Homo sapiens: one gene and its partners. The protein of the gene in region 2 interacts with the protein of the main gene of each other region in a biochemical or structural test. Each region holds a gene or a part of one and is shown on either strand. Other genes may lie near its edges. The genes, in order: OCEL1, SRPK1, HMGN3, TAF1B, ARGLU1, ABCF1 and EIF3M.

Evidence for each region.
Region 1: of the proteins of SRPK1 (region 2) and OCEL1, one has a biochemical effect on the other in vitro, tested with the Homo sapiens proteins (one large-scale study listed by BioGRID and IntAct).
Region 3: of the proteins of SRPK1 (region 2) and HMGN3, one has a biochemical effect on the other in vitro, tested with the Homo sapiens proteins (one large-scale study listed by BioGRID and IntAct).
Region 4: of the proteins of SRPK1 (region 2) and TAF1B, one has a biochemical effect on the other in vitro, tested with the Homo sapiens proteins (one large-scale study listed by BioGRID and IntAct).
Region 5: of the proteins of SRPK1 (region 2) and ARGLU1, one has a biochemical effect on the other in vitro, tested with the Homo sapiens proteins (one large-scale study listed by BioGRID and IntAct).
Region 6: of the proteins of SRPK1 (region 2) and ABCF1, one has a biochemical effect on the other in vitro, tested with the Homo sapiens proteins (one large-scale study listed by IntAct).
Region 7: of the proteins of SRPK1 (region 2) and EIF3M, one has a biochemical effect on the other in vitro, tested with the Homo sapiens proteins (one large-scale study listed by BioGRID and IntAct).

Annotation. Positions count from the first base shown.
Region 1 is NC_000019.10:17,224,878-17,229,025, forward strand, and holds the start of OCEL1 (occludin/ELL domain-containing protein 1), read left to right. Parts: upstream 1-1,348; 5' UTR 1,349-1,370; coding exon 1,371-1,439; coding exon of another isoform or gene 1,440-1,476; intron 1,477-1,815; coding exon 1,816-1,992; intron 1,993-2,097; coding exon of another isoform or gene 2,098-2,116; coding exon 2,117-2,322; intron 2,323-2,962; coding exon 2,963-3,128; intron 3,129-3,378; coding exon 3,379-3,432; exon of another isoform or gene 3,433-3,438; intron 3,439-3,925; coding exon 3,926-4,048; 3' UTR 4,049-4,131; coding exon of another isoform or gene 4,132-4,148.
Region 2 is NC_000006.12:35,914,599-35,918,098, reverse strand, and holds part of SRPK1 (SRSF protein kinase 1), read left to right. Parts: intron 1-3,500. UniProt on the Homo sapiens protein: Serine/arginine-rich protein-specific kinase which specifically phosphorylates its substrates at serine residues located in regions rich in arginine/serine dipeptides, known as RS domains and is involved in the phosphorylation of SR splicing factors and the regulation of splicing.
Region 3 is NC_000006.12:79,210,683-79,214,182, forward strand, and holds part of HMGN3 (high mobility group nucleosome-binding domain-containing protein 3), read right to left. Parts: intron 1-3,500. UniProt on the Homo sapiens protein: Binds to nucleosomes, regulating chromatin structure and consequently, chromatin-dependent processes such as transcription, DNA replication and DNA repair.
Region 4 is NC_000002.12:9,932,695-9,934,916, forward strand, and holds the end of TAF1B (TATA box-binding protein-associated factor RNA polymerase I subunit B), read left to right. Parts: intron 1-1,088; coding exon 1,089-1,290; 3' UTR 1,291-1,722; downstream 1,723-2,222. UniProt on the Homo sapiens protein: Component of RNA polymerase I core factor complex that acts as a GTF2B/TFIIB-like factor and plays a key role in multiple steps during transcription initiation such as pre-initiation complex (PIC) assembly and postpolymerase recruitment events in polymerase I (Pol I) transcription.
Region 5 is NC_000013.11:106,554,638-106,558,137, reverse strand, and holds part of ARGLU1 (arginine and glutamate-rich protein 1), read left to right. Parts: intron 1-1,006; coding exon 1,007-1,090; intron 1,091-3,500. UniProt on the Homo sapiens protein: Dual function regulator of gene expression; regulator of transcription and modulator of alternative splicing. General coactivator of nuclear receptor-induced gene expression, including genes activated by the glucocorticoid receptor NR3C1.
Region 6 is NC_000006.12:30,570,077-30,574,241, forward strand, and holds the start of ABCF1 (ATP-binding cassette sub-family F member 1), read left to right. Parts: upstream 1-1,365; 5' UTR 1,366-1,411; coding exon 1,412-1,484; intron 1,485-4,165. UniProt on the Homo sapiens protein: Isoform 2 is required for efficient Cap- and IRES-mediated mRNA translation initiation. Isoform 2 is not involved in the ribosome biogenesis.
Region 7 is NC_000011.10:32,590,331-32,593,830, forward strand, and holds part of EIF3M (eukaryotic translation initiation factor 3 subunit M), read left to right. Parts: intron 1-3,500. UniProt on the Homo sapiens protein: Component of the eukaryotic translation initiation factor 3 (eIF-3) complex, which is required for several steps in the initiation of protein synthesis.

The DNA of each region.
Region 1 (4,148 bases), on a different chromosome or scaffold from region 2:
GAGACAGAGCGAGACTCCGTCTCAAAAAAAAAAAAAAAAGAAAAGAAAGTACAGGTGAGGGAATCCGTTATCATGCCAGTGCCGCCAAGGTTGTGGGAAAACCCCTGTATCTCTTGGAGCATAAATGGTACAATCTCACTAAGGAGTAACTTGGCAGTATGTTCCAAATGTAAAATACACACATCCCAGACAGGAGGCTGAGGCAGGAGGATCGCTTGAGTCCAGGAGTTGGAAAACAGCCTGGACCCATAAGGACATTTCCTCTCAAAAAAAAAAAAAAAAAAAAAAAAAAAAAATGCCAAGCACGATTATGGGATCACACCTGTAATCCCAGCACTGTGGGAGGCTGAGGCGGGTGGATTGCTGGAACTCGGGAGTTCAAGACCAGCCTGAGCAACGCGGCGAGATCCCGTCTCTACAAAAAACACAAAAATTAGGGAGGCGTTGTGTCACCTGTGGTTCCAGCTATTTGGGAGGCTGAGGTGGAAGGATCAATTGAGGCTAGGAAGGAGGTCGAGGCCACAGTGAGCCATGATCATGCCCTCCAGCCTGGGCAACACAGCCTCTCTCTCTCTCTCTCTCTATATATATATATATAAAAGGCCGATTTGGGGCACACTGTCTATAAGTTAGCTCTGCTCTGCCAGGAACAGTACTGTTCAGTAAAGATGCCATCTAACACCACCTGCTCGCCCTTAAAAGAAATAAAAGAAAAAGAAAGAAAGGGGCGGGTGCGGTGGCTCACGCCTGTAACCCAGCACTTTGGGAGGCCGAGGCAAGCGGATTGCTTGAGTCCCGGAAGCTGTTCAAGACCAGCCTGGCTAAAATGACGAAACTCCGGGCGGGCGCGGTGGCTCACACCTGTAATCCCAGCACTTTGGGAGGCCGAGGCGGACGGATCACTTGACGTCAGAAGTTTGAGACCAGCCTGGCCAATGTGGCGAAACCCCGTCTCTACTAAAAATACAAACAACAACAACAGCAAAAAATTAGCTGGGCGTGGAAGTGTGCGCATGTAGTCCCAGCTACTCGGGAGCCGGAGGCAGGAGAACCGCTTGAACCCGGGAGGCGGAGGCTGCAGTGAGCCGAGATCACGCCACTGCATTCCAGCCTGGGCAAGTGAGACTCTTGTTAAAAAATTTTTTTCATATAATTGCTGAAAAAAATAAATAAGTTTAAATTTGCAAAACCATCCCGTTTTTTCAGACAAACTTGAGGGTCGAGGTCGGAGTCGACCATGTTTCGAAGGTGTGTGGCCACGCCCAGCCAGGTCAGCCCCGCCCCCAGGCCGTCAGGCCCAGCCCCCTTTCGTCAGACCCCGCCCCCAGCCCTGCTGAGCGACCCCGCCAGTCGGGTCCATCCTGCAGTAAATGCACAACCCGGACGGAAGTGCCTCTCCGACAGCAGATCCAGGCTCGGAGCTCCAGACGCTGGGACAGGTGACCCGGGGCGGTAGCGAGCCGGACGGCCTTGCAGGTGGGGCGGAGGTCCCGAGGAGCTCCTCGGGCGCGGTCGTCTGTGGGCTCTGCGCGCCCTGGAGGTCGAGGCTCCGGCAGCGCGGGGGTTAACTCGAGCCGGTCCCAGGCTGCGCGGCGACGTCAGAGTTCATTTACATAGCGCTTATTTGGGTTGCGCAGTCGTGGGCGGGGTCTGGACGTCGCTGCGGACCAATCGCGTGCGTCTATGCAAATAGCGGTCGTTCTGGGGAACTCTGCTCCCGCGGGGTGAGAGTTGGCCGCTCTTCGGCCGAGCTGCCCGCGCGTCCTTTCTCCGTGCGCGTCGTCAGGCGTGTCCTCTCCGCGTGTCCACCCACAGGCCGCCCGCAGACCACCCCCGCCGCGCGCGGGACACGACGCCCCCCGCAGGACCCGCCCATCAGCCCGGAAACCCCTGAGCTGCTTCTCCCGGAGGCCGATGCCCACCCGGGAGCCCCCAAAGACTCGCGGCTCCCGGGGGCACCTGCATACTCACCCGCCTGGGCCTGGGCCCCCGGTGAGCCTGACCGGGAGGGGGTCCCCAGGCCGGGCCTCTAGGCAAAAGATTTAGCCCCTCCAGTTTGAGGGACTCCGGTTTCCCGACACCCCGATTTAACTCCAGACCACGATTCCTGTGGCAGCTGCAGGGACTGGCGCCCCGAGGCCTCAAAACCAGCGCCCCCCGCCCTCCGTGCCAGCCCCAGCCGGGACCCCACAAGGCAAAGACCAAGAAGATTGTGTTTGAGGATGAGTTGCTCTCCCAGGCCCTCCTGGGCGCCAAGAAGCCTATTGGAGCCATCCCTAAGGGGCATAAGCCTAGGCCCCACCCAGTGCCCGACTATGAGCTGTGAGTGTCCCCCATGTGATTCTTCATGCCTGGGATCAGGAGAGGGGCACTGAGGCTGGGGCTTTGATAGTTGAATAAGAGTTTACCAAAGAGTAGAAAGGAAAGGATCCCTTGCTGATCAGTAGTGGGATTGTCCCTGTGAATAAGCCACTGCACTCCAGCCTGGGCAACACAGTGAGATCCCGTCTCCGAAAATAAATAAATAAATAGGCGAGGCGCGGTGGCTCATGCCTGTAATCCCAGCACTTTGGGAGGCTGAGGCAGGCGGATCACCTGAGGTCAGGAGTTCGAGACCAGCCCGGCCAACATTGTGAAACCCCGTCTCTACTAAAAACACAAAAATTAGCTGGATATAGTGGCGCATGCCTGTAATCCCAGCTACTGAAGAGGCTGAGGTGGGAGAATTGCTTGAACCCGGGAGGTGGAGGTTGCAGTGAGCTGAGATCGCTACACTGCACTCCAGCCTGGACAACAGAGCAAGACTCTATCTCAAAAAATAATAATAAATAAATTAAAAGAGGGAGAGAAAAGGAACGTTTCTAGTAGGGGCCCAGCATGGACAAAGAAAAGCAAATTACACTGACTGGGGGAAAGAGTGGGGTTCTTTACACTCACACTCTGACCCTCTTCAACCTGGTAGTAAGTACCCGCCAGTGAGCAGTGAGAGGGAACGGAGCCGCTATGTCGCAGTGTTCCAGGACCAGTACGGAGAGTTCTTGGAGCTCCAGCACGAGGTGGGGTGTGCACAGGCAAAGCTCAGGCAGCTGGAGGCCCTGCTGAGCTCCCTGCCCCCACCCCAAAGCCAGGTCAGCACTAGGGAGAAAGCCCTGCCCCGCAGCCCTTCTGAGTGGCCCGACCCAAGCCTCTGGGACACCCACTGGGTCCAGATTTCCAGGACTCTTTCTCCTCTCGGTTGGCTGGGCGCCGTGACACATGGCTAAGGTCAGCCCTTGAAGTCCCCACTAGATGGGCATTTAGTCTGTCTGAGCCTCAGTTTCTTCATCCCTTCTTGAATTCAACTCTCCCTAAACCCCCTTTCTACTCCTCCCCTTGCAGAAGGAGGCCCAAGTTGCAGCCCGGGTTTGGAGGGAGTTTGAGATGAAGCGAATGGTGAGTCTTGCATCCCACAGCTTGGTCTTGCACCCCTGAGACTTCTGTGAGGCTGGGGTGCCTGTGCCCAGTTTCTTTTTTTTTTCTTTCTTTTGAGACAGAATCTCGCTCTGTCACCCAGGCGGGAGTGCAGTGGTATGATCTCAGCTCACTGCAACCTCAGCGTCCCGGGTTCAAGCGGTTCTCCTGCCTCAGCTGGGATCACAGGCGCCCACCACCGTGCCTGGCAAATTTTTGTATTTGTAGTAGAGATGGGGTTTCACCATGTTGGCCAGGCTGGTCTCGAACTCCTGACCTCAAGTGATCCGCCCACCTCGGCCTCCCAGACTGCTGGGATTACAGGCATGAGCCACCTTGCCCGGCTCACCCGGTCGCCTGTGCCCAGTTTCAAGGAGAGAAAATTGAGGCTCGGAGAATGAAAGGCAGAGAGTTAAGCAGCTTGAAGGCCACAGGGCAGACTGCTGCAAAGACTTCCGGGTCTCGCCCTGCCTAGGATCCTGGCTTCCTGGACAAGCAGGCTCGCTGCCACTACCTGAAGGGTAAACTGAGGCATCTCAAGACTCAGATCCAGAAATTCGATGACCAAGGAGACAGCGAGGGCTCCGTGTACTTCTAAGTGCCCCTGCAGATGGGCAGAGGGATGCATGGGGATGCAGGTCCCTTGCATTTCTTGGTATCTCTCAGCTTTTCCTCTTGCAGCTCCCCCTACCAGGGGT
Region 2 (3,500 bases):
CAAGCCTCAACTAAGGTAACTTGACTCTGTTCCATGACTTCTGACTGCACTCCTGATGACTTCCATTTACTTTGCTAAGGCAAGCTGCTAGTTACAGGAGGTGAGTCAGGAAGAAGATTTGAGGAAGAAGCATGCCATAGAGTTTGGTCTTTGGAGATAGATGTGGTTTTGAATTCTGATTTTGCTACTTTTTAGCAATCTGACCTTAGACAAGTTAGTTAAGGAAACAGTCTTATGTATATATCCTGACTGGCAGTTCAGTCATAGTGAAAACTGATCAGGACCTAAAGATATAAAAACAAAGCGTTTAAATGAAAATTTTAGAAAGTTTTGGAACTGTTACAGTAAATAGCATCCTTAGTAATTTAGTCGTGTTGTGTCACAGGCAGAAGGGATTTTCAGTCCCCTGGTACTGCAGATCTTAAACCCAGGGTCTTGAAGCTGGTGACAGAAGAACCAAAACTTGGAATTCAGGGTCCCTTTCCAGCTCTGTGTTTGTTAGAGTGGATTTCCTTTGGGTTCTTTTCACTGTGCTGGAGTATTTGACTTTGGGATTTTAAATTTTCTTATTTAGACAATTCTTCATTTTACTTTTGTGGACGCTGTGCTTTTATTTACTAACATTAACTAGTTGGTGATGATCTCCATTTTACTTTACAGATAAGAGAATTGAGGTTTGTCAGATTACTCCCCTAGAAAATTGCAAAGCTGGGATTTGAACCCAGGTCTGACATACCCAAAGCCCTGGCTACCAATCATGTGTTTCTAAGTGACAGTGCTTTTGGTGTGTCTTACAACAGGTAAGGTAGAAGCTGAGTTGAAAGAGGCTTCTGAATGAGAGACCTCTGGATGCTTGGGGGTTTGGGTGCCCTTTCATGACATACTGTCCTGTGTCTATGAAACAGCACAATCATCTATCTCCCTCTGAACATTTGTTTTCAGTGTTTATACCAATAGCTGTGAGCCTTTATTTGTTTGTCATAAGCTTTTATAATTTAACAGTGTGTGTCTGTTTTTGTTTTGTTTTGTTTTGTTTTTTGAGACAGAGTCTCACTCTGTCACCCGGGCTGGAGTGCAGTGGCGCATTCTCAGCTCACTGCAACCTCTGCCTCCCGGGCTCAAGCCATTCTCCTGCCTCAGCCTCCCAAGTAGCTGAGATTACAAGCACCTGCCACCACGCCCGGCTAATTTTTGTATTTTTCGGGGTAGAGACAGGGTTTCACCATGTTGGCCAGGCTGGTCTCAAACTCGACCTCGAGTGATCCACCTGCCTTGGCCTCTCATAGTGCTGGTATTACAGGTGTGAGCTACCGTGCCTGACCTATATGTCTGTTTTTGAAGTTGTTTCTATGGAACATAATTCCAGAATGGATTTCATACTTACTGATTTTATTACTTACCTTAGGAAGCTGGTTTGGACAGTAATTTTCACTTTATTTGCAGTTAAATAATTATGGATTTAGTATACATTTGGTAGTAAAATTAATTCAGCTCTAACACTGATTTGTGGAGTCATTTGGGAGATATATTGAAAATTTACTTGAATTTGGCCACAAATTAAAAAAAAAATTTACAAGAGAAAATACTTAAATATCTAACATTTTTATTCAGTAGGAAGTAGAGCCAGTAAATTTGAAACAATTTAAAAAATGAAATAGTATTTGATGCTTTTTACACTTAGCAGTGCACCTTGGAAATTGGTTCTATATTCCATATAGTGCAGCCTTACTATTTTTTTTAGGGTCTGCCTTTTTCACTGAGTCTTAGAAATAGTTCCATGTCAGGACAGAAAGAGAACCTCATCTAGCATTCCATTAAGTTGATATGCCATAATTTAATTAATTAATTAATTAATTTATTTATTTATTTATTTGAGGCAGAGTCTTCGCTCTTGTCATCCAGTCTGGAGTGCAGTGGTGAGATCTCAGCTCACTGCAACCTCAGCCTCCTGGGTTCAAGCGATTCTCCTGTCTCAGTTTCTCGAGTAGCTGGGATTACAGGCACATACCACTGTGTCCAGCCAACCATAATTTATTTTAATTTTTATTAATAAACGTGTGTGTGTGTGTGTGTGTGTGTGTGTGTGTGTGTGTGTGTGTGTATATATTTTTTTTTTTTTTTGTTTTTGAGACAGAGTCTCGTTCTGTCGCCCAGGCTGGAGTTCAGTGGTGCAATCTCGGCTCTCTGCAACCTCCGCCTCCTGGGTTCAAGTGATTCTCCTGCCTCAGCCTCCAGAGTAGCTGGGACTACAGGTGTGTGCCACCACGCCCCACTAATTTTTTGTATTTTTAGTAGAGACGGGATTTCACCGTGTTAGCCAGAATGGTCTCCATCTCCTGACCTCATGATCCGCCCACCTCGGCCTCCCAAAGTGCTAGGCTTACAGGCGTGAGCCACCGCACCTGGCCTGTATATACCTTTAAAGACAAAAATGGAATCACTGGGCATACTTTTCCCTAGTTAACATTATCATGAGTATTTTTCGTGTATTAAATATTCCACTATGGGCTGTTTCCAGTTTTTCACAATTAATTCACAGCTATAGTGAATAATCTTTTGGACAAATCATTGCTTACATCAGTGATTATTTCCTTAGGATAAATACTTCGAATGGTATATACATTTAAAATATTTTTAGTTCATTTTGTCAAAATTTTGTCCAGCAAGATTTTTCTTTTTTTTTTTTTTTTTTGAGACGGTGTCTTGCTCTGTCGTCCAGGCTGGAGTGCAGTGGCGTGATCTCGGCTCACTGCAAGCTCCCCCTCCCGGGTTCATGCCATTCTCCTGCCTCAGCCTCCCGAGTAGCCGGGACTACAGGCGCCCGCCACCATGCCTGGCTAATTTTGTTTTTGCATTTTTAGTAGAGACGAGGTTTAACTGTGTTAGCCGAGATGGTCTCGATCTCCTGACGTCGCGTTCTGCCCGCCTCAGCCTCCCAAAGTGCCAGGATTACAGATGTAAGCCGCCATACCCGGCCTTCCTCCAGCAAGATTTAACAGGTTTGGCCGGGCACAGTGGCTCAAGCCTGTAATCCTGGCACTTTGGGAGGCTGAGGCAGGGGGATCACTTGAGGTCAGGAGTTCAAGACCAGCCTGGTCAATACAGTGAAACCCTGCTTCTGGAAATACAAAAATTAGCCAGGTGTGGTGGCAGGTGCCTGTAATCCCAGCCACACAGGAGGCTGAGGCAGGAGAATCGCTTGAACCCGGGAGGTGGAGATTGTAGTGAGCCAACATCGTACCACTGCACTCTAGCCTGGGCAACAAAGCAAAGTTCCGTTTCAAAAAAAAAAAAGGATTTAACTAGTTTAACTCTTATTCATTAAACAAATAGTTTTTGATCTCCCACCCTGTCCCAAGCATTGTTTTCCATATTCGGGATTCAGCAGTGAAAGAAAAACATTCCTGTCCCGTTGGCTACTATATTATTATAGTGGGAGGAAAGACAGAATAAACAATAGACATAAATAAGTAAATTAAATAGTATATTAGGTGATAGGT
Region 3 (3,500 bases), about 43 Mb from region 2:
CCTGAAAAGGGTCCAAACATGTTAGCCATTACTCAAAACTGCCTCCCTATCTGCCATCTAGTTGTCTTGAATAAAATCTCCATGAAGTGAGGCAAAATCATGTGAAAAGTTCCCCAGCTGCGACAATGTTGTTCCTCTCCATGTGAAGACCTGAACATACCAAATAGACTAAGTGATGCCAGAGAGCTCTTTGGGATTTCCAGAGACATTCCAATCTAAGCACTGCTCTACTGGGACTAACAGCTGTTCTGATCCAAAGGACTTAATACCTTTTAAAAATTCAGGTCCAGTACAGGAGTTCCAAAATAAAAAGCCTCGGAAATTAATGCAAAAAAAAAAAAAAAAAAAAAATGCCTAAGCTGTCTAAACCAGCCAGTACCTAAAAATCCTATCTTCTATTATAAAATCATTTTATGACTTGCTACATACAATTTCCCAGCTCTTCTTTCTATGCCATTAAAAAAGACTTTTCTTACATTTTCTTTTCCAGTAGCTATCATAAGAGATTTTCGTTTTCACTGCAAACAGTGGAGGCTGAGATGAACCTTTCACTCAGTCAGCAGTACTGATTATGCATACAAGTATGGACACCTTCCTGGAAAGTTCTATCAGCTTTCACAGCCTTAAAATCTGTAAATTATTGGACTATATTTATTGGATATGAAATAGATTAGACTGCTATTTTTTCCTTTTTAAAACACTAACATGTGAAGTACTCATTTGAGACTCAGATTGTTGGGTGGGACTACGAGGGGAAAAAAAAGCTATTAAGAATTTCTCTTGTTTTTTTTTTTTTTTTTTTAATTGTGAATCCTCAGGAAAAGTGGTCCAGAGACTGCTCCTCAGCACTTCTCTGACATTCGCTATTTCCCTTCCTTGCTTTGTTTTCCTTAATTGCCAATATCCAATTATTTTACTAGCTCTCAGGGAGGGAAGGAGGGCTTTTAGAATGAAAAGTCATCATTGATAAATATGACAAACAGATACGACAAATGTGAGGGTTTGCCACTATGGTATATAGGTGCTGGTCACAGTGGAATTATCCCATAGGCATCATCCCATAGGCATGATCATCCTTTAGGTTGGAGAAAATTCTGGTGAAGCCTATTCTGAAAGACATGAAATCTTCTACTTTAATATCCTGGTTGCAAAAGCAACATAGAAGTCTAATCTCCCAATGACAAAGTACACAGGGATAGCTAGATTCAATAGAATCACTGCACTTTGCTGGATACTGCTTGAAACACATGGACTATTCCTCTGGAATGTGGGAGTATTTTTATTTTTATGAGATGTTGTTGCTCCTGAGCCTGACCATGTACCTCCAAGCAAAACCCAAAAGTCAAGTTGCTTTTAATTCTAAAAAAAAAAAAAAATGCCTAAAAAGAAATTGCCTTTTTTTCAAAACTGGGAAGTAGAAAAGTTTGTACCTCAGAGCCTTGGCTGGGAATAGACAAGACAGAAAAATGGATACTGGATTACCAGATTTTTAGGACTGTCATAAAAGGGCCATAGGGATAGCGGATTTTGGAACAGGAGATGCAGATATCTTTCCTGGTTCTGCTATTTACAAGTTCTAACACCCAGGGAAAATCATGTTTCTCTGAGAACTTTGCTCTAGTTAAAATAGGGATAACATCTGTCAATCTGTCCTCAAAAATAGCACTTCTCTGACATTCACTATTCTCCTTCCTTACTTTGTTTTTCTTCATAGCTAATATTCAATCATTTTATTTTACTCTCTCTCCCACTAAAAGGAAGCTCCATGAAAGCAGCGATTTTTGCTTCTTTTGTTCACTGTGGGATCTGGAGAGCTTAGAACAGTGCTTGGCGCATTATAGGTGCTTATATGTTTTCGTTGAGGAATAATCTGCCTTCCTCTCATTTTAGAGTTACTATATGGACCAGACAAAATAATGGATGTAAAAGGGTTTGTAACTGTTGATTGTAATGACTATAATGTATTATTTTGGTTATTTACTGTCCAAGTCCCCTGAAGTACTATCTTCTGCACAATGCCTTCTAATATGGCAGTGGAAGAGGATTTTCAAAAGAGAATCCCCCTTAGTAACTGTTATCTATTCACTAAAGTCAAGGTGGTGCATACTCAATGACATAACTGGAAAATTCAGTCAATCCAGTGGGAAAGAAAAAAAATCAATCAATCAATACACTGACAGTTTTTACCCGAAACCATCAGCAAACTAACTGACCTTTTCACTTTTTAAATAACTGTGTTGATGTCCTGAAGACATTATCATGAGTTTTAATCTGGCCTTGGCTTAAATGACAGGTAGAGCCTTATCTAGAAACCATTTTTATTAACAACCAAAAATACATAAAATATATAGAAATAATATAAAATAAAATATAAAAATAACAATTAAAAATAAAAACATAATAAAAAAATTAGCCAGGTGTGCTAGCATGCACCTACAGTCCCAGCCACTTGGAGGCTGAGATGGGAGAATCACTTGAGCCAGGGAGATCGAGACTGCAGTGAGCTATGATCTTGCCACCTCACCCACTCCAGCCTGGATGACAGAGTGAGATGCTATCTCAAAAAATAAAATAAAATAAAATAAAATAATATGTATAAGACAGCTGTACAAGCAAAACCACACACATATCCTTTATATATACATTCTCACAAGCTTGATTTACTTTTGGTGTAGTGGGATTGGAAAGACAATCAAAGATTACTGGGTGCCATGGTGTTTCTAGGTTTTTTGACTGACAAATCAATTTAAATGCCAGTCCCTAAGGAAAAACCCAAATGCTTTTGTTTTGGTGTCCAAATCTTAAAAACATTTAAGGTTAGTTATACTTAGCCAACTGTTCTAAAAATCACATTTTGCCATTTCCCAAGAAAATTCAAGCATTTATCATTTTTTGGTTGGTTCTTGCATGTGTGTGATGACTCTGTTTTGGATAACAAACTTCATGATTATTCCAAACTCTGTCAAACAGTGAATGCTAGGTACATGGATGATGGGGACAGACTGTTTTGTTTTGCTTTTAAATTATTTCTTTATAGGTTCTGTTTAAGATTTTCCACTTGGCAGAATGAATTTCCTTGTACAAATCTTGTGCAGGGGTTTTGGTATCACGATAAACTCCTCTGAATTATTAACCACATTATGAATCACCCAATCAAAGAACCTGTAACTAGATATTGTTTTTGTCTCACCCATGACCCCTTTTAGTTGATAAGTTCAAGGGTAACAGCTGCAGTTTTCCACCTATTCTAAAGCCCTGTGCAAACGGAATGGTTGTCATCAAAGTTATATCTCTTTTCCTACTGTTTAGCCCATCTTTTTTTAGAGGTTCATAATAATAACTGTGGATGGTCAAATCCAAGAATCTCTTCCAAGTTTCTAGACTTTTGGAGGTTTCTGAATTTTAAAACAAAACATCTTTGAATCATTGCCTAATTAATTATCCCAATATCCTGAGTGTTCCCAATTTAAAAAAAAGCTTTAATATTTTGACATATTGTG
Region 4 (2,222 bases), on a different chromosome or scaffold from region 2:
CTTTCTTCAGAGCTGTCAGACAGGGACGTTTAAGTCTGCAGAAGTTTCTGCTGCCTTTTGTTCAGCTGTGTGCTGCCCCCAGAGGTGTAGTTTACAGAGGCAGCAGGCCTTGCTGAGCTGCAGTGGGCTCTGCCCGGTTTGAGCTTCCTGACCGCTTTGTTTACCTACTCAAGCCTCAGCAATGGTGGACGCCCCTCCGCCTGCCAGGCTGCTGCCTCGCAGGTCAATCTCAGACTGCTGCACTAGCAGTGAGCAAGGCTCCGTGGGCGAGGGACCAGCTGAGCCAGGCTCAGGTTATAATCTCCTGGTGTGCCGTTTGCTAAGACCATTGGAAAAGCGCAGTATTTGGGTGGGAGTGTCCCGATTTTCCAGGTACAGTCTGTCATGGCTTCCCTTGGCTAGGAAAGGGAAATCCCTTCCCAGGTGAGGTGATGCCCCGCCCTGCTTCGGCTCACCCTCCGTGGGCTGCACCCACTGTGCAGCCAGTCCCAGTGAGATGAACCAGGTACCTCAGCTGGAAATGCAGAAATCACCCGTCTTCTGATCATGCTGGGAGCTGCAGACCAGAGCTGTTCCTGTTCAGCCATCTTGTAACGGAAGGCTTTCCTATTTTAAAATAATGGAAATTGCTTGGTAAACTCTTCTCTCACAATACATATAGTATTGCAAGCTACATTATAAAGTCTAGTGTCTTATTTTGGGTGGAAGTCAGGAATTATTTGTTTTCTTTAGTTTGTTTTAGAAATATGTTCAGAATCTCTCCCTGTGTGCTTTTGTTTGCCTTGACCATGGTAAGAAAGTGGAGTGGTGGCCCATCTGGAGTGAAGAAACTTTGAGCAAAGAGTTGAAGGACCAGCTCTTAGCACCACCTGTGGCCCTTGTGTGGTGGCCATGGACAGTGTGAACATGTTTTCCTTTGTGCAGTTAAGGAGTTAACAAATTCTTCTAAGTTTCCTTCCAGCTCAGGGTCCTGTTTTAAGCCTAACCATATATATTTGCTAAGTTATTTGGGGGGATGTTCAGGGGTTAGTGTGTGCATTTCTTGGTTACCATCTAAAGATAAATTCTTTTTTCTTTTTCCCTTCTAGCTATTGTACACATGTGACAACCTATGAAGAATCAAATTATTCTCTGAGTTATCAGTTTATACTAAATCTCTTCTCCTTCCTGCTCAGAATAAAGACTTCCCTTCTCCATGAAGAAGTGAGCTTAGTTGAGAAGAAACTTTTTGAGAAAAAATACAGTGTAAAAAGAAAGAAATCAAGATCCAAGAAAGTGAGACGACATTGAGAAAATGAAATAGAAACTTTCTGGAAAAATATTTTAATAGTGATAATAACATCAGATTTTAATATAACATTCCAGAGAATTGTGGAAAATACTGCATATATATGTATAGACTCTGACACATATTTACATATATATCAAGTGTGCTTAGAAAAATGTATATTGTAAAGCAGGTGAGCTTCATTTGATTTTATTTTTCAGAGTATGAACATTCTAAGAGAAAGTTAAAACAATAGCAAATTGTATAATTGTATCCAGAAATGTATACTCATCGTATTTTAAAGCTAAATTTATTTTTTAAACTAGATCCCTTCATTATTCTTTATGCCCCAGAGTAAATCCCAGATGGATCAAAGATCTAAACATAATCTTTCATATGTAAAAATATAAAAGTATTAGTAGAAAACAAATATGAATGCTTTGATGATCTTGGAATGGCAAAGTCAATTTTTGCAGCATATGGTGGACAAAGAAATAATTTCTTTAATGTATCAATAGCTCTTGCAAAGCAAAAGGAAAAAAGCAAACTGAGTAAGGGATATGAAAAATTAGTTTTCTGAGGCCGGGCGCGGTGGCTCACACCTGTAATCCCAGCACTTTGGGAGGCCGAGGTGGGCGGATCACGAGGTCAGGAGATCGAGACCATCCTAGCTAACATGGTGAAACCCCGTCTCTACTAAAAATACAAAAAATTAGCCGGGCATGGTGGCGGGCGCCTGTAGTCCCAGCTACTCAGGAGGCTGAGGCAGGAGAATGGCGTTAACCTAGGAGGCGGAGCTTGCAGTGAGCCGAGATTGCGCCACTGCACTGCAGCCTGGGTGACAGTGCAAGACTCTGTCTCAAAAAAAAAAAAAAGAAAAGAAAAATTAGTTTTCTGAAGGCCAAGCCAAAAAACATCATAGGATACTCGACCTCACTTATACTCAAGAAATACA
Region 5 (3,500 bases), on a different chromosome or scaffold from region 2:
TAACAATTTTTTTTTTACACGGACACAACCCTCTGACAGTCTTTCCAAATATTAAAATCATTTGAATATGTATGCTGTGATCTGAACACTGCTCAAGCCATCAAGCAGTCTTCATACAGTTTGCATTATAAAATCTCATTAAATTCTCCAAGAAAAAATAAGTTGAAGAATTTTATTTCCTGACCATGCATCCCCTGGATTTCTGAGTTTCAGTTCAGATTGTAGATGACAATATAAGCTGCCTTCCGAAATTGTCAACATCTGAATGTTAAGTCCATTTTCCCCATGGAAGAAGCCCGTAGTTCCATGAAGTATGGATTACCATTTGTATTTTTCACTAACAGTAAATGTATTTTTCTTATTAATTGTTTGCCTTAGGAATGATGAATTACATTTTTTGTTCCTTCTTACCATAAACATCTGCATTCCTCAGCTCAGCCTTCCTTGTATGTTGTTTCTTTATAAATGGTTGAGCTGCTGATGCAGGTATTGCCAAGCTAACAGTACAAATCATTTTAAAGAGGAAGCTGGCGCGTATGGCAGCCGAGGAGCACACTCTGCAGGACACTGGACAAGACAGTAAATATTCAACTTTTAATGCTGATTAAAGGAGTATAGGTAAAGAATACGTAGGTATACATAATTGGTGAGACAAATATTCACTTTATTTATATTTTATATATTATTTTTTTAATTTGGTAAATACTATCCAGTTTTGTAGTTGTCCTTGTTGATTTGTGTGATATTAAAGTATTAGTAATAATTGCCAGGAAACTATCATTAGGGAGGGTTTAGTTGGTTGCTGTTTGGACTGGGAGGGATGATTTAAATTTAGTGCTAGAAACCAATTTTAGTGACTGCACAGTTTATCATTTGTCAGACAGAAGGTAGCTATAAAGCTACCCTGTAAGTCATATCAAAAAAGTTCAGAGGAAGATTAGTAAATATTTATCAATAAAAATAAACATTTTGTTTTTCTAATATCTTAACATATCCTCCCCTTTAGGAGGAAGAACGTGCAAAACGTGAGGAGCTAGAGCGAATACTGGAAGAGAATAACCGAAAAATTGCAGAAGCACAAGCCAAACTGGTAAGTGTAAAGCATACATGAAAAGTGTTTTGTATTTTGCTTTATTTCCTTTTTTCGGATTTTGTGGATTGATTTTTGTGCCCTATAATTTGACTTATTTTGGGGGGATTCTCAGGACTAACTTTAAAGGCTTTTTGAGGCAAGGATAGGAACAATTGAGATTTTTCCTTCCAATCTGGACAGAACTCCAAAATTTGCAGTGATTTTAAAAAACAAGTTTTCTGGGGAAATTATTTTGTTCTCTATCCCCAGTTTTTTCTTTCCTAACCTCATTCACATTCTCCTATGCCTAAAAAACTAATAGCAACAACAAAAGCTTGGGGGTATATTTAAACCAACTATAATATGCAGCATTTTACTTTGTATTAGTTGGCTTGTTACCAGGAGTAGATAGTATTTATTTGATAGTAAGTGCACCGGAGTAATTTCCTATTCCTAGTTTATAATCTTAAGAAATACAGAGTCTTCGGTAATTATATAATATAGAAAGATGGGGGTGGGGGAAAGCAAGTTGTAAGCTCCAGTTACATGGTATAAAGAAATTTTGTGGTTATAAATGTACAGAAAAATATCCAAGTGGGTCTGAGTAGTTAACAGTGGATCCCATTGAGAGTAGGGATGAAGGAAGACCATAAATAACCTTAATAAGAATGTAAAAAGTTAATACGGGGCAGTTGTTTCTGGAACATCATCTTCTGAAAAATAGAGTACTCTGGATAAGAGATAATGCTAGAAATATTCCAGATAACTTAGTGAGCATGGCACAATGGATTCTTGGTAAATATCACCTGGTATTTGTGAAGGCCATAATGGAATCTATTGGAAAGCCATAATCCGCTTTCCCGAAGAAAATCTTAAAATCTGCTAAGGCAGAAAAAGCAATAGGAATGTGAAATGGATGAGTCATTCTAAGTTATATTGCTGCATGCTTATGAATAAGTATGTGATAACTTTTTTTTTTAGTTATTCTGGGATTCCATATAAGGAGAGAACCTCAGTGCAGATAGGAAGAAGAGGGAAAGTGTTCAATCTGAATTTGAGGTTAGAAGGTTGAGCTTTGAAGGGTAAATACACTCTGGTTTGTGAGGCATGGATGTTTCAGAAAAGAAGAAAAAAATATGGTTGACAGTTAAATCACTGAAGCAAAATTACTGAGCAGGTGGAACTGGACCTCCCATTAGGACATGTTAAAGAGATTGGATAGCTGTGGTGGGTTCATTATGTGGGTGGCCTGGAAGCTTGGTGTGCCCAGCCAAGATCTTGATCCCTTCTGACCCTGTGGTAGCTAGGGACGGCTTGGCCTCCTTGCATTCTTACAGTCCTCTATTATTTGCCCACATGAAAAATAAAAAATATGACTTTCGGTGTGTGATCACTGGAAAAAATATTGGTAGTCATAACCTAATACTTCTCAAATGGTAGTAAAAGTTCTGTTTTTGTTTTTTAATCCCAGTTTGTCTCAGACCTCTACTTTCGCAAAATACAATTAAGATGAATTACTAGAAAAATGAGGTCATATTGCTGTAAAAACTTCTAAAACCCTTAATATTGATTTGTCCTTGTTGGGGATTGATTAGTTTGTAGATTATAAGTGGTCTGTGGGCCATGCTTTACATTAGCACTTTTCTAGATCATACAGATTTAGATTTGATCAGAGTGACACTATTCTTGCTTTGTTTTGTTTTTGAGACGGAGTTTTGCTCTTGTTGCCCAGGCTGAAGTGCAATGGCGCAGTCTCGGGTCATTGCAGCCTCCACCTCCTGGGTGGGTTCAGGCTATTCTCCTGCCTCAGCCTCCCGAGTAGCTGAGATTACAGGCACCCACCACCATGCCCGGCTAATTTTTCTGTTTTAGTAGAGATGGGGTTTTACCATGTTGATCAGGCTGGTCTCGAACTCCTGACCTCAGGTGATCCACCCGCCTTGGCTTCCCAAAGTGCTGGGATTACAGGTGTGAGCCACCGCTCCTGGCCCAGAGTGACACTATTCTGATGGCATGCTTGTGATAAACTTCAGTAAAAAACATATCTTAGGGAAAAAGAGGCTTGGATTTGAGAAAGTTGAGTAAGAATTTGAACATATTTAACATGTTTGCTTATAGTGTTCAATAAAGTTGGGAGCGTAGTAAATTGATACTGGAGAAATTTTTTTTTTTTTTCTTTTTTTGATGGAATCTCGCTGTGTTGCCTAGGCTGGAGTGCAGTGGCGGAGTCTCGGCTCACTGCAACTTCCGCCTTCCAGATTCAAGCAATCCTCCTGCCTCAGCCTCCTGAGTAGCTGGGACTACAGGTGCCCACCACCACACCTGGCTAATTTTTGTGTTTTTAGTAGAGACGGGGTTTCAGTATGTTGGCCAGGCTGGTCTCAAACTCTTGACCTTGTGATCCACCCGCACCGTCCTCCCAAAGTGC
Region 6 (4,165 bases), 5.3 Mb from region 2:
TTTAGGAGTAAGAACAAGAGCTCCATTTTGTACGTATGAGAGAGATTTATTAAAGATCTCAGAGAAGATGTCCCATAAGCAGTTGAATTCATGAGCCTGGAGCTCGGGGCAGAAGTTGGGGGCCAGCAAGAGAAGTTTGGGAATCTTCATTGGTTATAGATGGTATTTAAAGTCAGGAGGTGATAGGTGATAAGTCTAGATTAAGGAGAGTGTCAAAGATTTAGCCCTGAGGCACTTCAACATTTAGACTTCAGGAGAAGCCCATTAGATGCAAAGGAAACCTATAGAGAGTAGTGTCCCTGAAGAAAACAAAGGAGGGAGGGAGCGACCAAGTCTATCAAACATTGATGGGAGAGTGAGTAGGATGGCCCCAGATCTGTTGACTTTGGCAAGTGTGAATTCAGACAATGGTGGCAACAAAAGCATGATTGTAGTGGTTTGAGAGCTGACAGAACTACAGGAGCACCTTGCTCAAGCTCCCATATTAAGTGGTAGAGTTAGAAGTGAACCAAAGTCTTGATTGTGGTGATAGTTTACTGGGTTTATGCAGGTCAAAACTTATTTAAGTGATACTTTGCAGTTTATTTTGGGTGCCATTTTATTTTGTGTACAGTTTATTGTATGTCAATTATATCTCAGTAAAGCTGTTACCAAAAAAAATAAATGAACCGAAGCTCCACTGCACCGTGACTTCTGCATGTTGGGCTCCAGTTCCCTGTTTACAATTGTACACTTCGGGATTTTGTGACACATTTCAACACTGGACCGATCAGACCTCTCCCTTAGCCATTGGTCTGCACTGTCTTTTCTGCCCATGACCCAGTCAGTCTCGCGCCCCATGACCCTCTCCTAAAACACGCGCAGTCTCCTCTCTCTTCCCCTTCCTCTCGTGTCTTCCTTGCCTACCAGCCTCACCTGATGGGCTCGTGTTCTCTCCGTCCCCGATCCACTCGGGCTCCGGCAGCTGCTGCTTGGGCGCCTTCGGCATCGCGGTGGCAGAACTAGAAACGAGTTACAGATAGAAACTAGAATATGCTTTTTAAAAAAACAAAAAACAAAACAAACAAAAAAACAGTATGCCTCAACTCCTTCATACTAGTAGGAAATTATTATGTTCATTCCTTGAGTCTCGCGGCGTCGGGAGGTCACGGCGTCAGGCTTCCCAGACAGTCGTAAACGCCATGTGTTTACGCGACTGGAGCAAGCGGACGCCGGCCCCGCTCCGTCATTGCAGGCCACGCCTCCACTGAACCAGGGCCACGCCCCCGAGATGACGGCGAAGCTCGCACGTGCGCAGCCCGGGGGCGGGGTTGGCCGCGCCAGCTTGGAGAGCCAGCCCCATCGGGGTTCCCCGCCGCCGGAAGCGGAAATAGCACCGGGCGCCGCCACAGTAGCTGTAACTGCCACCGCGATGCCGAAGGCGCCCAAGCAGCAGCCGCCGGAGCCCGAGTGGATCGGGGACGGAGAGAGCACGAGCCCATCAGGTGAGGCTGGTAGGCAAGGAAGAAACGAGCAGAGGGGGAAGAGAGAGGAGACTGCGCGTGTTTTAAGAGAGGGTCATGGGGCACGAGACTGACCGGGCCCCTGCGGGAGTTACTGCGCATGCGTGCCGTGGGCCCGGGAGGAGTTTGCCGGGGAGGAGTGGGTTTGGAATCGGGGTTAAAGGAAAGAGATCCAGATGTCGCACGTGACCTAAGTGAGACTGGGCGAGATAAAAGAAAGAGCATATGGCACCGAGGGAGAGATGGGGAGAAATGGGAAAACCTTGCTTAAAAAATTTGGACATCCGCCCCACCATACACTGTATTCCACCAGGAATATATGAGCCCTGCCTCGACCTCCCCTTCCCCCTGCGCGCGCATACACACACCTTGGGAGCCTGTGATCCCCCTTGTTTCTCAAGAGAGGGTGACTCCTTCATGGTTTCTTTCTTAAGACACCCCTCTCACTCAACTGGAGCAAGAGTGTAGATTTTTGATGTTGGAATGAGGGTTAAGGTTTACTTAAAAAGCAGCGAAAGTTTGTTAAGCGCTTGTTTTTAATTAAGCACTCTATATACTGTGCTTTGAGAGGGGAAGGAAAAAAACATGAAGATATCCTCCCAGGGTTGAAGTCAGTTTTAAGGGGGACATAAATGGACACAACTAACCCCAGTAGGTACACAGTAACTAATTTTAAAAGCACTTATTGGATGCCTACTGTATACCAGGTACTGTGTGGAGGAAGTGGGAATGTAGAGATAAAAGATAAGACTTTCCCTCAAGGGACAACCCAGTATGGTGAAGGGTCAGAGCATTAACCAGACAGACAGTGGTTGTCAGAGTATGATGAAGGTGCTTAAGAATGTTATGGGACTGTAGAAGAGAGGAGGAGCATCTACTCAGACAGGTAAGGGAGTGTCAGCAAAGCCTCCCAAGAATATGTAATAGCTGAGTATTTTTTTTTGAGGCACATTGTAGCTCCATCACCCAGGCTGGAGTGCAGTGGCATGAACATGGCTCACTGCAGCCTCCACCTCCTGGGTTTAAAGGATCTTCCTGCCTCAGTCTCCCAAGTAGTTGAGACTACTGGCATGCACCACCACACCTTATTTTTAAAATTTTTTGTAGACACAAGATCTGGCTATGTTGCCTAGGCTGGTCTCAAACTCCTGGGCTCAAGTAATTCTCCTGCCTCAGCCTCCAAAAGTGCTGGGATTACAGGCGTGAGCCACTACATCTGCTCCCCAGAGTTTATTCTTGAAAGATCATCGTGAATTAGCAAGGGGAAGCGCATTCCAAGCCAAGGAAGTTTGTGGAAGGTAGAGATGTAGGCAAGCCTGACTGGTCCCACTAGAGCCTGGTGACTAGTGTGATGAAGTCAGAAAGATGCTCAGGAGACAGATAATGAAAGGCTTTAGATGCCATTCCGAGGAGTTTAATCCTAAAGACATTAAGAAGGAAGGCCCATTGAAGTGCATAAGGAATGATTATGAACAGTTCACCTGTAGCACTGAGCAATGGAGAATGAATGGCCTTGAACTGGTCAAGATGGAGGCGGGGAGACCATTTAGGGGGCTCTGGCCATGATCTAGGTGAGAAGTGGTAAGGGGATAAGCCAAGGCCTGAAGAATAAAGAGTTACTAAGGAGGCGGCATTGATCGGAACTGAGAACTGATTAAATGAAGGGAGAAGTAAGGTTGACACTTAAGTAACCCAGTGACTAGTAGACTATTAACTGAAAGCAGTAATGGACAGGAGAGTAAGAAGTGGAAAGAGATAAGGTGAACTTCTGAATGCTGAGTTAGGCGTTTCTGAGGATTTCTAAAAGGAAATGGCAAGAAGAGAGTTTGTTTAGTCACTGTGGAGAGACAACTATACTAGGAGTAAAGACACAGGCAAGTAGAGTTGAAGTGCTGGATATGGAAGAGTCCCCTAGAGAGTGTTTGCAGATTGAACCAAAAAGAAGGTTAAAGGTGGGAACCCTAAAGAACTTCAGCAATTGCAGGAAGCAGGTGGGGAAGGAGGCTGAAGAGATGAGACTGAGAAAGGCAAACAGCCAGAGAAACTGGAGGCAAACCAGGAGTGAGCAAGATCCCAGAAATTAAATAATGATAGAAGAGAATAAAAAAGGTGTGGAGGTAGGCAGCATGGAATGCTGCAGAGAAGTCAGGCAAAATAAGGACCAAAAAATACTTTGTGGTTTGAGGAGCTAAGGGTTCAGTGGCAACTTTGGCAGAAGTAGTGTTCATTCGGAGATGATACCAGATTGCAGTATGTTTCAAAGGTATGGGAGAAGAGAAAGTGAAGCTTGTGAATTACGATTTTGAGACCCAATGAGGACAAGAATACGAAACAGTAATGGGGGAGAGGGGTATAAGGGTAAAGAAGGCTTGCTTTCTTGCCTTGAAGGAGCAGCTTAAGCGATATACGAAAGGAGAGAAGACACAGTATATCTCTAGCCACACTTAATCTTTTTCAGTTCCTTGGGGATTATACTTTCTCACAATGAAACTCTTCGGAGGCTTTTCCTGTCCCTATAATGAAGTGGATAAGAGTGATTAAAGTACAAAAGATTTTTTTGGTTTTGGTGGGTTTTTTTTTTTTGTGACGGAGCCTCACTCCAGGCTGGAGTGCAGTGGCGCGATCTCAGCTCACTGCAGCCTCAATCGCAGGCTCAAGCCATC
Region 7 (3,500 bases), on a different chromosome or scaffold from region 2:
CATATAGCTTGCAAAGCTTAAAATATTTACTCTCTGGCCCTTTATAGAACGTTTGCCTACCCCTTGTCTAAGTAGTCTTACTATAGTCAGCTTCATGTCTCTGCCAGAAACACCCCTCTCATATTTCGGTTAGTGCCTCCCTTTTACAGCACCCTCTACTTGTATCCTAGCATTTAACACCCTTAGTTGAAAGTAAGGTTGTAGGCTAAGTGAAGGCAAGGAACCTCATCTGTAAACCATTGCATTCCCAAGAAGATAGCACTTATTGGGCACTGAGTGGATAAATGCTACCCACAGTAGGGAACTGGAAGGGGATACTTGTTTAAACACGACATTTCTGACATTCTGCCAATCTAAATGTTGAGAGTTGGTTTTCTTCTTTAGAACACATAAAATACATATTTTAATCAGTAAAATTCTGAGATTTTACCTAGCAGTTAAGTAAAAATGCTTCAAGTTTATGGGTGCCCCCTTCATGACTTTATTTATATTGGTGGTTGATGCACATGGTGTTTGTTGTGCTTTTTTTTTTTTATTTGAGATGGAGTCTTGCTCTGTCGCCCAGGCTGGAGTGCAGTGGCGCAATCTCAGCTCACTGCGAGCTCCACCTCCCGGGTTCATGCCATTCTCCTGCCTCAGCCTCCTGAGCAGCTGGGACCACAGTTGCCGCCGCCACGCCCGGCTAATTTTTTGTATTTTTAGTAGAGACAGAATTTCACCGTGTTAGTCAGGATGGTCTTGATCTCCTGACCCTGTGATCCTCCCGCCTCCGCCTCCCAAAGTGCTGGGATTACAGGCGTGAGCCACCGCACCAGGCCTGTTGTGCATTTTAAAGGGTGTTACTGGTAACTAAGCCCTTACATGTCAGACACCATGCTGTGTGCTTCAAGTGGATTAAAAAGATTTCTTTAGCTGAGAAGGTTGAAGTATACTGTAGTTGCTAAAACTGGAAAATGACTTGCACCTGTGCTTACAGTGTGGCACAAGATAACTAATGAGTAAGATGTGGTTTTTTAAAAGTTTTTCTTTGAATTTTTATAGTTAAGTCATTATACTTTTTAATTTTAATTTTTATTGCAAAGTTAAAAATTCCTTAGTTTTTTATTCCTGGTACCACTACACTACCATAATTTACAGGGTAACATGCCTGATGTAATGAAAAGAAAAAGGCAAAGGTACAACAGATAAAAGACCTCAGGAATGTACATCTAATTGACACTACACTGCATTAATCAATAGTGCACTTTTTGCAACCTGTAGCTATGACAGTCCTGAACAAGAAGGCTTTCCTGTTTAAGCTGCAGTAACTTTTCTGACTGTGGATCATCATTCCTCTGTGGCAGATTTTTACAGTTCCTCTAATGCATTTGGATGATTGCCTCAAAGTAACTTGCAGCTTTTCTGACTTCTCCTTGCTTGCACTCCTGCCAAAAACTGTAGCCCTTTTCTGCTGTTTTTAGAACCTTGTGCTACCATATTTACCACCATAGAGACTGCCCAAGCTTTATCCACCAAAACTGCCCCCTTTCATGCATGGGTCCATAATTTGGTTGTCATTGTCCACTGTAATATCCAAAATCATTATAGTTCCCACCACCACCGTAATTACCACTCCCCAAATTACCTTCTTCATTGTAACCATCATATCCTCCACTGCTGCCACCATATCTACCACCACCATACCCGCCTCTACTATCAAAACCAGGACAACTGCGGTAGTTGCCACCATCACCTTCAAATCCATTATATCCAGCAACCCCTCCTCCATAACTACTTCTGCTGCCACCACCCCAGCACCATATCCTCCTCTTCCACCAGAGTTTCTACCCATGGCCAAAACTACCATCTCCAAAGTTTCCTCCACAACCCATAAAGTTGCTAGATCCACTCCACAACTGCATCTGTTGTTTAAAAAGGGCCCTTTTCACTTCACTAACGCCTGTTAATAGAGTGTTATTTCTGAACCACAATTTTATCATGATCATCAAAAGTTACAAAAGCAAATCCTCTCTTTTTTCCACTCTGCCAGTCCTCCTGTAACTTCTGTGGTTTCAATCTTGCGATACTTTTCAAAGTAGTCTCTCAAATTATGTTCTTCTGTATCTTCTTTAACATCACCAACAAAAATTTTCTTCACTGTTGGATGGGCACTGGGCTTTACAGAACTCTCTCTAGAAACAGCTGTCTTTGGTTCCATTGCACTCCTCAGCCTTGTGTGGTTGAGCACACATTGCTGCATCCACCTCTTCAACACAAGAGTAAGTCACAAAACCAGAGTTTGTGGAACATTTTGTTTGGGGGTCTCTGATTACCACACAACCTGTGAGTGTGCTCCATTTCTTAAAATGTTCTCTAAAACTACCATCTCTAGTTTCAAAGCTCAGACCACCAATAAACAGTTTTTTTTAGCTGCTCTGGCTCCTTTGGATCATGGCCTCTTCCAGGTTGAGTTCAGTATTAATTTTTTATTTTTAGAGACAGGGTCTGACCATGTTGCCCACACTGGAGTACAGTGGGTATTTGGCTGTTCACAGGTGCAATTGTAGTGCATTACAGCCTTGAATTCCTGGGCTCAAGCAAGCCTCCTTAGTAGGTGGGACTATTGGCATGCGCCACTGTGCCTAGGCATTTATATCACTACATTTAAGATGCGGGTTACCACTTAGCCATGCCTACAGTGGTATTTCTGAATCTTAGTAAACCTTAGTTTTGAAAGAAGTTTTAGATAGCATTTACCATTTTAAAATAAATGATACAGTTCCTGCTGATTTTGCCCAGGCTAAACTCAGATGTGGGGAGTAAGTATTTTTAGAAAATGAAAAAAGGAAAAGAAAAACCTCTTCCTCCTAGTTAGCAAAGCTTTCTATAAGCTGAAGATTCCACAGTTTAAAGAAGTCATGAGGAGTAAAGATAAACATTTTCTAAAAGTCCAGTTTGAATGACTGCATTTATTTATTTTGCCCTATTTACTCCAGTGAAACTGATGTATATAACTGTAAGAATAATTTAATTGGAAGGGTATCTTAAGTAGAGTTATTTAAATATTTGGTATTGTCTCAACTTCAGCCATACTGTCCTAACAGTTTCTGGGACACAAAACTTTTTTTGCGCCTAGGGCCTTTATACTTGGTTTTCCCTCTGCTTGGAAAGTCATCTTACCCCACCTTTCATGAACCCAGCTCTTTTCATGGCCAAGAAAAGGATATTTTACATCATTTTGGTCTCAGCTTACTTGCCATCTCTTCTGAGGGAGACTGCTTTCCCACTGTACATAAAGCGGCCTTTCCGTTTTCTGCCCTTGTTGCTTTGATTAAATCACCATTTATTTCCTTCATAGCACTTATTAGTTACTTTTCCTTAGTTGTCCATCTTTCCTACTAAAAGGAAGGTTTTATGACTTTTCCCATAGACAGGGACTTTGTCTCTCTTAGTCACCGTTATAATGTCATCAGCACAGTACCTGCCTCTTAAAAATATTTTAAATGAATGAATAGCAGTAA